Regions from separate parts of the Homo sapiens genome. Here region 2 is linked to region 1. A link means that fine-mapping ties the variant in region 1 to the expression of a gene that starts in the linked region. Tissue or cell type: monocytes after Pam3CSK4. Region 1 holds a variant in brackets; the other region holds the start of a gene. All regions are shown on one strand. Distances are from middle to middle.

Evidence for each region. PIP is the estimated chance that this variant, and not a neighbour inherited with it, causes the effect.
Region 2: it holds the start of LINC01564, and the variant in region 1 is fine-mapped to the expression of LINC01564 in monocytes after Pam3CSK4 (Quach 2016, PIP 0.95). The same link has a PIP of 0.9 or more in monocytes after R848.

Annotation. Positions count from the first base shown.
Region 1 is chr6:53,547,758-53,555,865 of GRCh38, reverse strand. No RefSeq gene overlaps it. Among named protein-coding and RNA genes, the nearest start is that of GCLC, 6.7 kb to the right of the region's middle. RefSeq lists a silencer at 7,495-7,724. The variant T/C (reference allele first, on the strand shown) is at 3,980.
Region 2 is chr6:53,624,531-53,632,638 of GRCh38, reverse strand. It overlaps LINC01564 (long intergenic non-protein coding RNA 1564), which reads right to left and starts at 4,259. Exons shown (of 3, transcript NR_125841.1): 1 at 4,193-4,259; 2 at 3,948-4,064; 3 at 1,245-1,626.

The DNA of each region.
Region 1 (8,108 bases):
TTTAGCTTAGTGATTTTGGGGCCCCAAGATTCATTTTCCTTTCACAAGTAACTGGCCACAAGAGAAACAGAAACAGGATTAAGAAAGAGCCCTAACCCCTCCCATCACAGGCTCCATCAGCACATTAGAGAGGAGTACACTAGGTGACTATATATACATATTTGTGCCTGTGATAATTGCAAATAAAATGACACTAACCATTGTAAATGTTCAGTTCTTCTCAACTATTCTTTTTGACCATCTTGGAAACCCTTGCAAATATTTAAAGACAAGCATTCGTGTAATAGAGTTCATCGTAATACATTGTGAACCCCAAATATCTGAGACGGGTCACAGTCAATTTAGAAAGTTTATTTTGCCAAGGTTAAGGACATACCTGTGACACAGTCTCAGGAGGTCCTGATGACTTGTGCCCAGGGTAGTTGGGGTACAGCTTGCTTTTATTTGTTTTAGGGAGACAGGAGATATCAATCATTATGTGTAAGATGTACCTTGGTTCAGTCCAGTAAGGCACACAGGGTTGGGGGGAGCAGAGGGGGATTCCTTTGAGTCTTTGACCAGCCTTTCACCGAATACACAATTTAGTCTGGCTCAGTGAATCTGCATTTTTATATAAACAATATGGCAGAGGAAGCAATCAGATATGCATTTGTCTCAGATGAGCCTCAGAAGGATGACTTTGATTTCTGTCTATCCCTTGTCCACAAGGAAATTCCTTGTAGGCAAATTGTGAGGGAGGTATGTAGCCTTTTATCTTTGTAGCTATTTTATTTAGGAATAAAATGAGATGCAGGCAGGTTTGCCTGACATCGTTTCCAGCTTGATTTTTCCCTTGGCTTAGTGCTTTGGAGGTCTCGAGATTTATTATCCTTTCACAACATATAGAGGAGTGTCTCAAACTTGATACTACTGACATTTAGAGTAGGACAATTCTTGTTGTGGGATGTCCTGTGTATTGTAAGATAAGTTTTTAGGTGAGTTGAATTTTTTCCTTAAGGTACTTACTACATTAAAGTTTAAGTACTAAAATAAGTGGCAGGAGGTATTGTATGAGAAAAAATACTTTCGGGAAGTACAATATATTTTTTTTTTTTTTTTTGCTTTTAGGAACTGGTCTTATCGAAGCAAAATTGCTCAATTATTCAGTACAATTGCCTTTCTACATAGATGTAATTATGGCTAACACTTTTTCACATCTCATCATCCATGAATGATAGGTTATAGTGCGCCAAAGTTCAATTATTTGGTGTTATCTAATCTAGAATGAACTTTACATATATTTATGTGAACTAAGGTGAATGAAATGGAAGAAAAAAGGCAGAGACTAAGATCAGATATCTTTAAAAAGGTAAATACATGCCTTAGCAATCTTACTCACATTTTGACACTTGGCCTATTTTAGCAATATTAATCACCCATGCACAGCCATTGTCAAATCATTTATACTATATGCGACAAGCATGTTTTTCTGGCTTTGGGTTTTGTTTTTAAATACAAAGCCCCATAATTTGGAACAATAGCTGGATAATTTGGAGTGAAAAAACTGGATAAGATCTACCATCTCCAAATTTAGAATGACAGAAATTGGTTTCCAGTAAGATATGTCAACAAAAAGAGTCAAACTCTATAAAATAGTTGAAGACATTTATTTTGAGCCAAATATGAGTGGTCATGGGCTGTGACACAACCCCAGGTGATCCTGAGAACATGTGCCCAAGGTGGTCGGGCTACATATAGTTTGGTATCATACATTTTAGGTGGATGTAAGACATCAGTACATGAAAGATGGTGGTTCAGTCCAGAAACATGCCCTGAAAATGTGAGACAACTTGGGAAACATGAGACAACTCGGGGTGAGGGGGCTGTATTAGTCCATTTTCACGCTGCTGATAAACATATACCTGAGACTGGGAAGAAAAAGAGATTTAATTGAACTTACAGTTTCACATGGCTAGGGAGGCCTCAGAATCATGGTGGGAGGTGAAAGGCACTTCTTACATGGTGGCAGCCAAAGAAAACGAGGAGGAAGCAAAAGCAGAAACCCCTGATAAACCCATCACATCTCATGAGACTTATTCACCATCACGAGAATAGCATGGGAAAGACCAGCCAGCATGATTCAATTACTTCCCCCTGGGTCCCTCCCAAAACAGGTGTGAATTTTGGAAGATACAATTCAAGTTGAGATTTGGGTGGGGACACAGCCAAAACATGTCATTCCACCCCTAGCCCCTCCAAATCTCATGTCCTCACATTTCAAAACTAATCATGCCTTCCCAACAGTCCCCCAAAGTCTTAACTCATTTCAGAATTAACCCAAAAGTCCACAGTCCAAAGTCTCATCTGAGACGAGGCAAGTCCCTTCTGCTTATGAGCCTGTAAAACCGAAAGCAAGCTAGTTACTTCCTAGATAAAATGGGGGTACAGGTATTGGGTAAATACAGCCATTCCAAATGGGAGAAATTAGCCAAAACAAAGGGGTTACAGGGCCCATGCAAGTCCGAAATCCAGTGGAGCAGTCAAATTTTAAAGTTCCAAAATGATATCCTTTGACTCCAGGTCTCACATTCAGGTCATGCTGATGGAAGAGGTGGGTTCCCATGGTCTTGGGCAGCTCTGCCCCGGTGGCTTTGCAGGGTACAGCCTCCCTCCCAGCTGTTTTCACAGGCTGGCATTGAGTGTCTGCGGCTTTTCCAGGTGCATGGTGCAAGCTGTCAGTGGATCTACCATCCTGGGATCTGGAGGACGGTGGCCCTCTTCTCACAGCTCCACTAGGCAGTGCTCCATTAGGGACTCTGTGTGGGGGCTCTAAACTCCACATTTCCCTTCTGCTCTGCCCTAGCAGAGGTATTCCATGAAGCCCCTGCCTGTGCAGCAAACTTTTGCCTGGGCATCCAGGCGTTTTCATACATCTGAAATCTAGGTGGAGGTTACCAAACCTCAATTCTTGATTTCTGTGCACCTATAGGCTCAACACCACATGGAAGCTGCCAAGGCTTGGGGCTTCCACCCTCTGAAGCCACAGCCTGAGCTGTATGTTGGCCCCTTTCAATCATGGCTGGAGTGACTGGGACACAGGGCACCAAGTCCCTGGGCTGCACACAGCACGGAGACCCTGGGCCTGGCCCACAAAACCACTTTTTTCTCCTGGGCCTCCAGGCCTATGGTGGAAGGGGCTGCCATGAAGGTCTCTGACATGGCCTGGAGACATTTTCCCCATGGTCTCGGGGATTAACATTAGGCTCCTTGCTACTTATGCAAATTTCTGACACCAGCTTGAATTTCTCCCCAGAAGATGGTTTTTTCTTTTCTATCACATAGTCAACCTGCAAATTTTCCAAACTTTTATGATCTGCTTCCCTTATAAAACTTTAACAGTACCCAAGTCACTTATTGAATGCTTTGCTGCTTAGAAATTTCTTCCACCAGGTATCCTAAATCATCTTTCTCAAGTTCAAAGTTCCACAAATCTCTAGGGCAGGGGCACGATGCCACCAGTCTCTTTGCTAAAACGTAACAAGAGTCACTTTTACTCCAGTTCCCAACAAGTTTCTCATCTCCATCTGAGACCACCTCAGCATGGACATTATTGTCAGCTGTCATTATTGTCAACATGTCAGCATGTTGGGCAAAGCCATTCAACAAGTCTCTAGGAAGCTCCAAACTTTCCCACATTTTCCTGTCTTCTTCTGAGCCCTCCAAACTGTTCCAACCTCTGCCTGTTACCCAGTTCCAATGTTGATTCTACCTTTTCAGGTATCTTTTCAGCAACACACCACTCTACTGGTACCAATTTACTGTATTAGTCCATCTTCACACTGCTGATAAAAACATAACTGAGACTGGAAAAAAAAAAGAGGTTTAACTGGACTTACAGTTCCACATGGCTGGGAGGGCCTTAGAATCACGGTGGGAGGTGAAAGGCACTTCTTACAGCGTGGTAGCAAGAGAAAATGAGGAAGAAGCAAAAGGGGAAACC[T/C]CTGATAAACCCATCAGATCTTGTGAGACTTATTCACTATCGTGAGAATAGCACAGGAAAGACCAGCCCCCATGATTCAACTACCTCCTCGTGGGTCCCTCTCAAAACAGGTGGGAATTCTGGGAGATACAATTCAAGTTGAGATTTGGGTGGGGACGCAGCCAAACCGTATCAGAGGGTCAGTTCCAGGTCCCCGCTAATATTTGAATAGGTGGATTCAAAGGTTTTCTGAATGGCAATTGGTTGAGTTTACCTAAGGACCTAGAATCGATAGAAGGGAGTGTCTGGGTTAACTAAGGAGTTGTGGAGACCAAGGTTCTTATTATACAGATGAAGCCTCCAGGTAGCAGGCTTCAAAGAGAATAGACTGTAAATGTTTGTTGGGAGACTTAAAAAGGTGCCAGACTCCGTTAATTCTCTTCTGGATCAGGAAAAAGACCTGGAAAGGGAAGGGGATTCTCTACAGGATGTAGATTTTCCCCACAAGAAACAGCTTTGCAGGGCCATTTCAAAATATGTCAAAGAACTGTATTTTAAGATAAAATACTTGATTTCTTCAGGGCCTATTATCCATCATGTTGGTATTTTATTGTTCCAAAGAACCTGTTTAGTCAGTCTTCAGGTCTGTTTCAATGTTAATGCTGGTCAGCTGTGCCTGAAATCCAAAGGGAGGATGTTATAATTAGGCATGTCTGATCACCTATTCCATCATGGCCTGAAGTAGTGTTTCATATTTCAGGTTTACTTTTTTTTAATTTATTTTTTATTTTTTTTGAGACGGAGTCTCACTCTGTCACCCAGTCTGGAATGCAGTGGCGTGATTTTGGTTCATTGCAACCTCCGCCTCCCTGTTCAAGTGATTCTCCCACCTCAGCCTCCCAAGTAGCTGGGATTACTGGTGCATGCCACCACACCTGGCTAATTTTTGTATTTTAAGTAGAGACGGGGTTTCGCTGTGTTGGCCAGGCTGGTCTTGAACTCCTGACCCCAGGTGATCTGCCTGCCTTGGCCTCCCAAAGTGGTGGGATTACAGGTGTGAGTCACTGCGCCTGGCCTCAGGTTTACTTTAGAATGTTCTTGGCCTAGAGGAGTGGTCCATTCAGGTAGTTGGAGGGCTTAGAATTTTATTTTTGGTTTACGGATATTAGGGTATTGCTCATTATTTTCCATCTTTCTAGATCACCTCCCATATCAGCTGCTCAAACCTCATCTTCTACATTCCTCTTTCTTTCTTCAACCTTCACTTAGAGCTCAGGTCCTGAGATCAGACTTGAGTGAGATTTCCTTTAAACTAATGGGAGGAGGTAAGTAACTGTAACATACAAAGATGAATAATAAGTACATGAAGAGGTGGGCACCATGGCTCATGCCTGTAATCCCAGCACTTTGGGAGGCCAAGGCAGGCGGATCACCTGAGGTCAGGAGTTTGAGATCAACCTGGCCAATATGGCAAAACCCCATCTCTACCAAAAATACAAAAACTAGGGCCAGGCACAGTGGCTCACACATGTAATCCCAGCACTTTGGGAGGCCAAGGCTGGCAGATTACCTGACGTCAGGAGTTCAAGACCACCCTGGCTAACGGTGAAACCCCGTCTCTACTGAAAATACAAAAATTAGCCCGGCGTGGTGGCAGGCGCCTGTAGTCCCAGCTACTCGGGAGGCTGAGGCAGGAGAATTGCTTGAACCCAGGAGGTGGAGGTTGCAGTGAGCCAAGATCATGCCACTGCACTCCAGCCTGGGTGACAGAGCAAGACTCCCGTCTCAAAAAAAAAAAGAAAAAAGTACATGAAGAGCCATTATACTATGTTCTCTCAACTTTTGTGCTTTATTGGAAATGTCCATAATAAAAAGTTATCTTTAATTATTCTCCAGTGAGAAGAGTGAGTCTACAGGACTCAGATATCACTCGCCCTGTCCCAACACATTATCATGGCGTCTTTATCTTCTATAAGAAGACAATGAGATTTTTCTAGGAAAAAAAGCTCACCACTTCCCATGTGTTCTGGATCCCAACAAGTCAGGTCTCCTGAGACATTTTGCTTCTGAAAATATCCTTTCTTGTTCCCACATCTTCAATCTTGCCCCCTTTTGATGCCTACCCATCTTCTTTAGCACACTCAAACTTCTCCATGTTAAAAAAGTTCTTCACTTGAACTTCACAGACCTTTTGTAACTCTACATGAAAACAAGCACATTTATATTTTTCAAAAATCCATGTAAACTAAAAATTGGCTTGGAAAAGGTCAAAAGAGTTTCCTTGCTTTTTTGACAATGACAATAGCACACCTCAGCAGCATGTATTACAAATAGTACACGATACAAAAAGATTTGAACTCTTTCAACTAATTTTAGTAATAACATCAGAAAATGTTTAGGCTGGAAGGGAAACTTTATCTCCTCCAGACTCTCATTTGTACAGATGAGAGGAAAGGACTCTCCAATGATTATCACAACTTTGCTTAGATTGACCCAGCAGGTAGCCCTCTGAGATGGGGCCAAAGCCCCAGTCTTTTGGCTACTGCTCTTCCATCATAAAGCCCCCAGGGATCTTCTTGAATAAGATCAAGTCAAATTCCAAGTACAATTCAATTGTAGGGAGAAAATTCCTTCTGTATCTTTTGTTGTTTAACATGTACACTGAAGTTAAGAAATAACTAACTATTTGTTTTCACCAATTAAGAAATTTAACATTGGGAGGCCGAGGCGGGCGGATCACGAGGTCAGGAGATCGAGACCATCCCGGCTAAAACGGTAAAACCCCGTCTCTACTAAAAATACAAAAAATTAGCCGGGCATAGTGGCGGGCGCCTGTAGTCCCAGCTACTTGGGAGGCTGAGGCAGGAGAATGGCGTGAACCCGGGAGGCGGAGCTTGCAGTGAGCCGAGATCCCGCCACTGCACTCCAGCCTGGGCGACAGAGCGAGACTCCATCTCAAAAAAAAAAAAAAAAGAAAGAAATTTAACAGACAAAAAGCTTAAGGACTTCACAGGCAGATCCGCGGGTTTTGGGGAAAGGGTGTGTCAAGGGAGAAGAAAGGATGTAATGAAGGTTGGCATCAAGTCCCAGGAAGAATCACACTGAAGGCAGCCACCAGCTTCACCCAGGCTAAGTGGTGTAGTAGACAGCTTTGAAATATCACTGGAGTTCAAACCCCAGCTTAGCCACTACCTGTTACTTAGTATTACTGGATCTCAGTTGCCTCACTTATAAAATGTGGCAAAGATTAGTACTGTTTTACGGATACCAGCTCAAAGTGCCTGGCATAGAATGTGATATACTGGGACCCAAGCGACAGACCACCAAGGTCAAGGGATACTCAAGCCAAAGAGAGCGGTAAAGGCAGGGGCAGATAACCTAGAAGTGCCTTCCTCAGAGTCCCCTGGGCACTCTCTCTGTTTTCCTTATTTGATCTCGCGAAGCCGCTGACTCAAGGGAAACTGGGAATGGCGTGACCACAGAGAAAATGATGTATTTTTTGGTCCTTGGAGGCCCGAAACCCATCGTGTCTGAAACGACTGCGGCAATCCTAGCAGCAGCAGCAGCCCAGAGGTCAGGAGTGATGGACTGAGACTTTGCCCTAAGAAGCCTCCCCCAGATTGACCTCCGGCTCGGAGCCCGCACAAAGCGCTGAGTCACGGGGAGGCGGTGCCGCGCGCGGGGGAGGCGGGCCCGCGCAGTCACGTGGCGGGGGCTGTATCACAACAACTGCGCGGCGTGCGCCGCCCGCGGCCCACACCGCTTCCTCCCGCGACAGGCCGGCTCTCCGAGCATGCTCAGCTTGGCCTCACGACTGCACGGCGTCCCCCCATGCGGATCTCCACGGTCCAGGTTTTCCGGACGGCTCTGGGGGCGGGGCCTGTGTTGGTCCGCGGGGCTGCGAGGCGAGGTTGCGGTGCCAGGGCGCCGCTGGGCAGAGATGGGTTCCTGGAGAGCGGGTCTCGCGTTTTTCCGCGGAAGACACTACTGGGAATCGGCCTTTGGTCATGGTCTAGGGAAGAGCTGATTCTGCAAGATATGAGCTCCTTCTTTCCCCTTCAGCTATCGTTACAGCCCTGATGGAGCTGTCTGCTGAAAACTCACTTCCAGATGTCGAAACCTGGCCCTGGGTGCAGTCTACAGAATGAAA
Region 2 (8,108 bases), 77 kb before region 1:
ATAGAAAAATAAAGGTCACACTTTTTTAGACATCTACATAAGGAATTAGAAACTAAAGAACACCACAACACACCAAACACCCTACACATGGATTACAGGTAGTAACTTGCAATGAATTTCTTGGTATCACCATTTCTTTGGCAAATCTATGAGCTTAGTGATAAAAACTTGGCATTAGTGCTCATTAGAAAAAGCCAAGTAGGGTTTAAACAACTGAAAATCCCTAGACTAAGAATCACAACCCCAGAACTGCTAGAAAAAGAGAGACTGAATCACAGTCTAGCAGAGCTTTCCAGGATTAAAGCAGGAGATGAAAACCCTCTCCTTACCCTTGTTTATAACCACATTTTGTGTTAGGATGAAATTTGGCACAACTTCTGCCTGCTATTATTCTTGTAATTTTCCCATCCTTTTTCTGGAACACTGAACTATGGGAGGGTACACCCAACATTGCTGGAGACACCATGCCCTTCACAGGGTCCTCCCAAAGCGCTCCAGACACCAGCACCCTGGATAAAGAACCTGCCACTTTGTCCCAGGGGCTGAGGCTTCTCTCCAGTCTCCTGCGTCTACCCCATTTTCAAGCCCTCTTGCTTTGGTCTCATGTGCCCACACTTTCAACCCAAACTGTGCCTTTCTGGCCAGTCTCTATGGATGAATACCTCAGCTGAACTGTCTACCTGGCTTTCCATAAGATCATCTTTGGTTCCAGGATCTACAATAAAAGCACCAGACCTGATCTATCCCAGTCTGCTCTGACCTCATCATTTTTCCCCTAAGGGCACAAATGTCCGGTCTGTAGCACTAAACCACAGGGACATCTACATAAAATGGTGGCTGTTTCCGTTTTGCTGAATCTGTCTTTTGATGACAATTTCTGGGTTAACTCATCTCAGAACATACCAGAGCCTGAAGGATCTGCTGATCCTTTATATCCTAGGAGAATAAATGAATTAGCAGATATACAGCTCTTAGAAGTGTGCCTGACTAGAATAAGCATCTTATATGTTAGCCATTATTTGATCAAGGTCTCAGCCAGTGATTGTAGTTTCTTAGTGCTACACGGTGTTCAGAGAGATTCTAGAACCTAGCATCTTCCTCTAAAAGCATGATTTATCTTTGGTTGCTGAAATGTTAGTTTTGTCTAGGATCTCTTTTGAGTATTTCTTAATTCCTGTTTTTAAGTAGAGAAGAAAGTCTTTGGAAATGTGATTTTAAGTAGAATGAGAAGGCAAGAATACCTGTAGTATTTGTTTGTATTTTATTTTTAAGCCACGGAAACAATTTTGTCAATAAATAGGTGATCCTTAAACCTTCAAAAGCTTCGTCTAAAACAGAAGCATTGTTTTCATTTTCTTAATAGATGTCTTTTACCATTTTGCATGCAGCCAAAAATATATTTCCCCAATACTAGCACAGAAAGAACTGCTAAAAGTGAGAGACATCCTGTTTATTCAGGGTTACTGCAGTCCCTTGGGGCGAGGACCATCTATTTTCATGTACTGCTAAACTGTCCAAGATTATGATGTGCTGGGTGTTTTTTGCTCATTTCTCATGCTTCATCTCTCTCTCTTGCTGATTTCTTGCCTTTTGAGCTCTTCAGCCAGCTGGCTGTGGTGGACAGGGCTGTAGGAAGGAGTGTAATAGAAATCAGGAAGTGAAGATGCTGATTCCCACACAACCGCCAGACTGGGAACGAGGCTGTCTTAAAGATCATTTGGGCAAAACACACGCTATACTGTCCCTGACATTATCTGTCAAGTGTCCGATCCAGAAGTAGCAAAGTGGGATGGATAATAATTAGTGGGACTATAGGGACCATAATGATAGCTTGGTGGCCACTGGGAAATTTCAGTCAGTGAGCATGGCTCCTGATATGAGATAATGTGTGATCTTTAGACTCAGGTCTCTTTTAGAATAGCTGAAGCTGGCATTGGGCCCATATATGCCTCCAGGTAAAGGACATCCCAGAGACATTTTGTCCAATACAAAGCCTGGAAGATTCCTCATATCTTGTACTAGATTTATTGTTGCCCTTGTTATATATCATAAATATCCATCTTCCGCATTAGATTCTGAGCTCCTTCAGGGTTAAAGTCATATAATTTTCATGTATAGTTCCCCAATGCCCAGCAAGCAATTTATTAATCAATCAACCAATTTTATGAAAAACAAAAAACAAAACAAACAAACAAACAAACAAACCACTGTACTTCATACCTGAATTAGACCAAACAGTTGAAACACTAATGGGACATTAGGACTCCTCCAGGGGGAATTAAAAATGGTATCTCCCTTTCCTCTGTCCCATTCTCTTGAGTCATTTGCGAATGAGCTGGGAATGTTAGTCCCCCTCTTGTCTTAAAATGGAAAGGTTCTGGATGTAGGGCCCTGGAATAGTAATTAGAACTAACTTTCCCCATCCACCCACCCACTACGTGACACAAACTGCCTTCAAACCTGGCTGGAGAGATTCACCCAAATGCTTATTGTCATCTATTGCATCATCTTCTAGGAAAGAAGAAAATTGCTTCCATATCTCCATGGCCCTAAATGGTCTTTATCTAATCTGACCAAAGTCATCTCTTGGCCTTTTGATGCCAACAGCATTGGCCATCCTTGCTGCACCCAGGGTCACCCTGACCAAACACTCTGGAAGTGTGCGTGATTCATCAGGTCCCACCTTATGGAAGTTACAACAGTAGTATGGGTAGGACAATAGGACAGAGTTACAGCAATAGCAGTGGCCAACCTGCATTGCAGAGAACCAAAACTGCAAGTTCTATTTCCATTCTCCATCCAAACAAATACTGTATTTTTTTAAAAAAAATAAATAAATCCAGATATGCCTTCCAGTTCCTTGACCTTAATCTCTCACTCTGGATCTGTTTAGATTCTATGCCCTTCATGTAGCTATTTACGACCCACTGGTTTACTATCTCGGTCTGATGTTCTAGACTCTGACATCTGGTCAAATATTTCATCAAATATTTGATACATGAATGAAGAGGAGACTTTAAGACTTTCAAAAGGATAAGAACCAGAGGCTAGGCATGGTGGCTCATACCTGTAATCCCGGCACTTTGGGAGGCCAAAGCAAGTGGATCACTTGAGGCCAGGAGTTCGAGACCAGCCTGGGCAACATGGTGAAACCTCACCATTATTAAAAATACAAAAATTAGCTGGGCACAATGGCAGGTGCCGGTAATCTCAGCTACTCAGGAGGCTGAGGCACGAGGATCACTTAAACTTAAGAGGCAGAGGCAGAGTCTGCAGTGAGCTGAGATTGCACCACTGCATTCCAGCCTGGGCAACAGAGCAAGAACCTGTCTCAAAAAAAAAGGATAAGAACCAGAGCAGCAAACTCAACCCTGATACATTGCCATGTATCTCAGAAATATCTACCTGGATGTTAAAAGGGTAAATAGAAAGAGTTCACGCTCCATATTCCCCTGGTTAAATTGAGACATTATAAGACGGATGTGGGAAATAGAAGAGAACGAATTATGAGGTGTGCTGGCCCAAAGCCACATGCCTTGTGGGGAAACAAATTCTTTGACCACCCTCAACAACAGTGACTCCCAACCTCCTTGGAATTTTGGCACCCTATCATTATGTACTTGATGATCCAGTCTTGATTTGACAACCTCCACTCCCGCACTTGGCATGAAAAAAGTTATGCAGCATAGATTTATTTCATTTTTTCCTAATGAATGTGAATGAACATGACTTTTATTGCAAGCATTTTATAGCCTTTCTTGAAACAACTTGCATCATCCTGGCTAAATGGAACACAATTTTTCAAAAAAATAAACTTGAGCAGTCGTGTAGCTAACACAACACTACAGTTAGTAAGACAGCATGACAGCAACAGCCCCAAGGAAATAGACAGCAATCCTGGTTTCAGTGAGGGAGACAATGTGAGAGAGGGAGAGCTCCCAGTATACCTGAATATGTTTTCTGCAAATAGATTCCCGAACATGTCCTCACATCCTTCCAGTAAGTTTTCCAGTAAGCCTTCCAGTGAGCATTCACTTGAGCCAGTTTCAGTTTGTTTTCCATCCCTGCAAACAAATGATCCTGGTCTAGATCATGCTGAATTGGCACTCAGAAAAAGATAAACAGAGACCAGTAAAAAGCCTTGGCAGACCCATAATCTACCTTCTCTCATCAGCCCCTCAGAGCACAATACCTTGCTGGAAGTGGAGGAGTGAGACAGAGGTTACTTCGGTGTCTGGGATCATGTATGTGCCGCCTGGTTTTCCTATAACCAGCTCTGACACTTCTGCCTAACAGAGCCATCTACCCATATCTGAAATCCCTAATTCTAAAGTAAAGATAACATTTTTCTTGGCTTCTTTGGCTGATATCTTTGGATAGAGCAAAGGAAAAAGAGAGCAACAACACGGAGAGGAAAGATGAAACAAAACATGGAGAACTGTGTAAATGTATCCCCACCAAAACAAGCACACTTCATTCTACAGAGCACACAAAGAAAAGATCCTGGAGTTAGAAAAAGACTCTGTTACAGCGGAGTAAATACTTGCTGGGCTTTTCAACAAAAATTTCTTTGCCCTACAGACAGGTCTGGCTGCCTAATTTCTGCTATTAAACAAGCTCCAACTTGATCTGGACTTCATGAGGAAATGTGAAATTTGAACCTTTTTATTTCCCCAGCTTTTTTCCGTGCTCCCACTTTATTTTGGTTACTGCCTTGACTTCCACCCCCAGGTGCTATAACTGCTTTATTTCCTCCTGCCCATAGCCTGTTCAACACATGGCGGTTGCTGGTCCATTTTCTCGAAGCACTGCTTTCTGCCATATAACCGTGGGTGGCACCAGTTTATACAGGCAGTGGCAGTGTAGGCAGGAGGCGTTGGTTTCAACAGGGTGACAGCACACAGCTAAGCAGCCAGTGCCTTCTCTGGGCCTCAATTTCCTCATGTATGAAATAGATATTTCCTCACTACTAGGGTTGTTGAGGGGATCAAATGAGAGAGCAAATGCAAAGCTCCTGGCTCAGGGGCAAGCACACAGCAGTACCCGCTAGGAGGATGCTGGCCTTCCCTCTGGAGGTGACAAAGTACCTGCTCCTGAGAGTTCAAGTAACTGGGTCCAAAAGTGCATGGAATTTGAGACAGGTTTATAAAACAGTGGGTAGAGGATGAAGGACTCATGCTCAGGAAGAACTTCTCTGCCCTCACATCCCACTATCCCAGTACATGAACAGAATGTGCTTTTAGAACCCCATCATGGGCTCAGAGGGAAACCTCTGAGAAGATTCAGGAAGCCATTCAGCCAGAAAGGCTGAAGGAAGGCAAACAGCAGAACTCAGCACTTTCAGCATAATGGTCAAAACAGAACTCTGCAGATAAACCTTAATTGTAAAACAAAATTGGTGAAAGAAAAATGGGTGAATTAATGGGGATTCTAATTTAATAAAGTTAGAATTAACTACTGTCAAGTTAAAAGGAAGTTTAAAGTCAGTCTTATTATAAATGATTAGTCCACTCAGTCCTCTGCGGGAACCAAAATTCTCCTTAACATGTTAGGGAAATTAAATTTGTTATTTAGAACCTGTGATAAATCTCTTACACTCTTTGTTGGAAAAAACTTTAAATGCATCATTTATTGAAATTAATCTTCTTTCATTAAATAACCTTTGATTCCAAGAAATAGCAAACCTTTTAACTTTTAACCTACAAGTGAAACAGCCAAATCCAGATAGTAAATTTGAGTTAATTTAGCTGATGATATGGCTGGAAATTTTATTCTCAGAGATATCTTAGAAGATACAAATCTATTATTGTTAATGTGAGAAGAGCAATGTATATGCATATTATTATGTCAATCTTATTTGGTTGTAGTTTTAAAATTTAGCTAGTTATTCTCACAGAATTTTTCATAAAGAATTAAGAAGCCTCCTAGGTTTTATTTAAAAACTTAATAACATAACTTAATAACATAAGCTACATAGAGGTGAAAAAGATAAATGAAAAACAAAAATAAGTAGCTAAACTACAACTAGGAATTAATCCAATAAAAAAAATTTTTAATATACAAAGCTATTTTGCGACCTTGGTAACACCTTTTTAACCAGGTAAGGAAAAAATAGTTTGACTTTTTATAAATATATAATATTTAACTTTTTGCTCTTTCCAGTTTAAACTTTGCCTGTTTGAAGGACATTCCAAAAATATTTCAGTACACTTCTTAAAAACCTTCTAATGCGTCTTCTTAGAATGTCATATGTTATTGCCAAATTAAATTACTGTTTTACTACCTGACAGCTTGAAAACAAGGACTATCATGTTATTAGAAAATCTTGCAAGAAAATAAATCTCAGCAATAATGTGAACTCATGGAAGTGACAGAATTTTTTAGAGACAGATATATAGATACATCTATATCAAATTTATATTTTTTTAGAGATGGAATCTTGCTATGTTGCCCAGGCTGGAGTGCAGTGGCTATTCACAGGTACAATCTAGGCGTATTACAGCCTTGAACTCCTGGCCTCAAGTGATCCTCCTGCCATAGCCTCCCAAGTAGCTGGGACTACAGACATGCCCTACTGTGCCCAGCTTTATCTATATTTTTTAAAGTGGAAAATTTCTGCTGGAATTTCTTGCAAGTTCCTGTTTACATGCCTCTAAGACTTCAAATATACCCTACCCTCCAACTTAATATACTATTCTTTTATTTAAATGATTTTCCCAGTACAGTTTTAGTTTTATTGGCTGTGTGGTTTTGGTCCCAACAAAAGCAGTTACCTTGTAAATTTCAGAAACATATATCTACTAGGTAAATTCGGCACTCACAATCTTAGATTTTCTAACCAAGTCCTGCTTTCAAATATTCAGTGTCATATTCTGTCCAACTGAATCATCAAAGTATCCCAGAAATTCCAGCATTTTGGCAAAAAACAGCACATTCTAATAAAATATATGTTAACTCAAATATACCTTCAAGACACAGACGGTGATGAATCACAAGCTGAAAAATACTTTAGTTAGAAGTAGACCTAGTATAACATTTTTTGAACCCGACATTGTACTAATTGATAAAATGATTTTTTTCCTCTAGTCTGTATAAAACTCTTGGTAAGATTTCCAGTATGTCAGCTAAAAATGTCAATGTCAACAATATTTGCCTTGGTATCCCCAACATAAGACAAAACAGTTGTTCAATGAATAGTGTTTTGAGTGCTTCTTTGTTGACTATGTACTGAACACTGTTAAGCACTAAGAACATAGTTATTAACAATCCCCATAGAGCTTTCAGCTTTTTTCATTTTTGTATCTAATTAGGGAAAATTTCCAACATCTACAAAAGTGGACAGAATGGTATCATAAAGTCTCACATACTAGTGCCCAGTTTTAATAATTGTCAACTCATCACCAATCACAACTCCACTCCATATTAATTTGAAAGCAAATCCCAGACATCCTAACATTTCATCTATAAATATCCAATATTTGATCATGGGTTTAGAGATAAGCCTATCAGTATTATGCCACCTAAAAACCCCAATAATTTCTAAATGTTATAAAATATTCAGTCAGTATTTAAATATCCCTGATTGTCTCATAAACTTTTTGAACAGTTTTTTTGTTTGTTTTGTTTTGTTTTGTTTTTTGCTCAGCTCCACACTTTGCAGTTGGTTGACATCTCTTAAGTTTCATTTAATCTATAGTTCCCCATCTGCCTTAGTTTGAGTTCCTCCAGAAATACATCTAAGACAGGATTCAAGTATAGGTAGTCAATTTGGAAAGTGCAGTGTACACCATAAAGGAGACAGCATGTGATACAAGAAAAAGCAACCCAAACCCATAGAGGTTGAGCTGTTAAGCAATTTACCAGTGGGTGACTGAAGCTTAATCCTTCGGGGAAGTTCTTGAAAAAGGGATAAACATACACCCACCTCAGAATTATGTCCCTGGGAGTTGAAGGAGCTTGGGTATGTAATCATCCACTTTATTTAATCATTGGTTAAGGGTTGCTTCTGGGGTTGTTAATTGCTTGGCACTTCTGGCGTTCTGCAGTTCAGGAGAAAAAAAAAAAAAAGCTCTTAGGCACCAAAAGGCAGCTACTGACAGTTGGGAGCA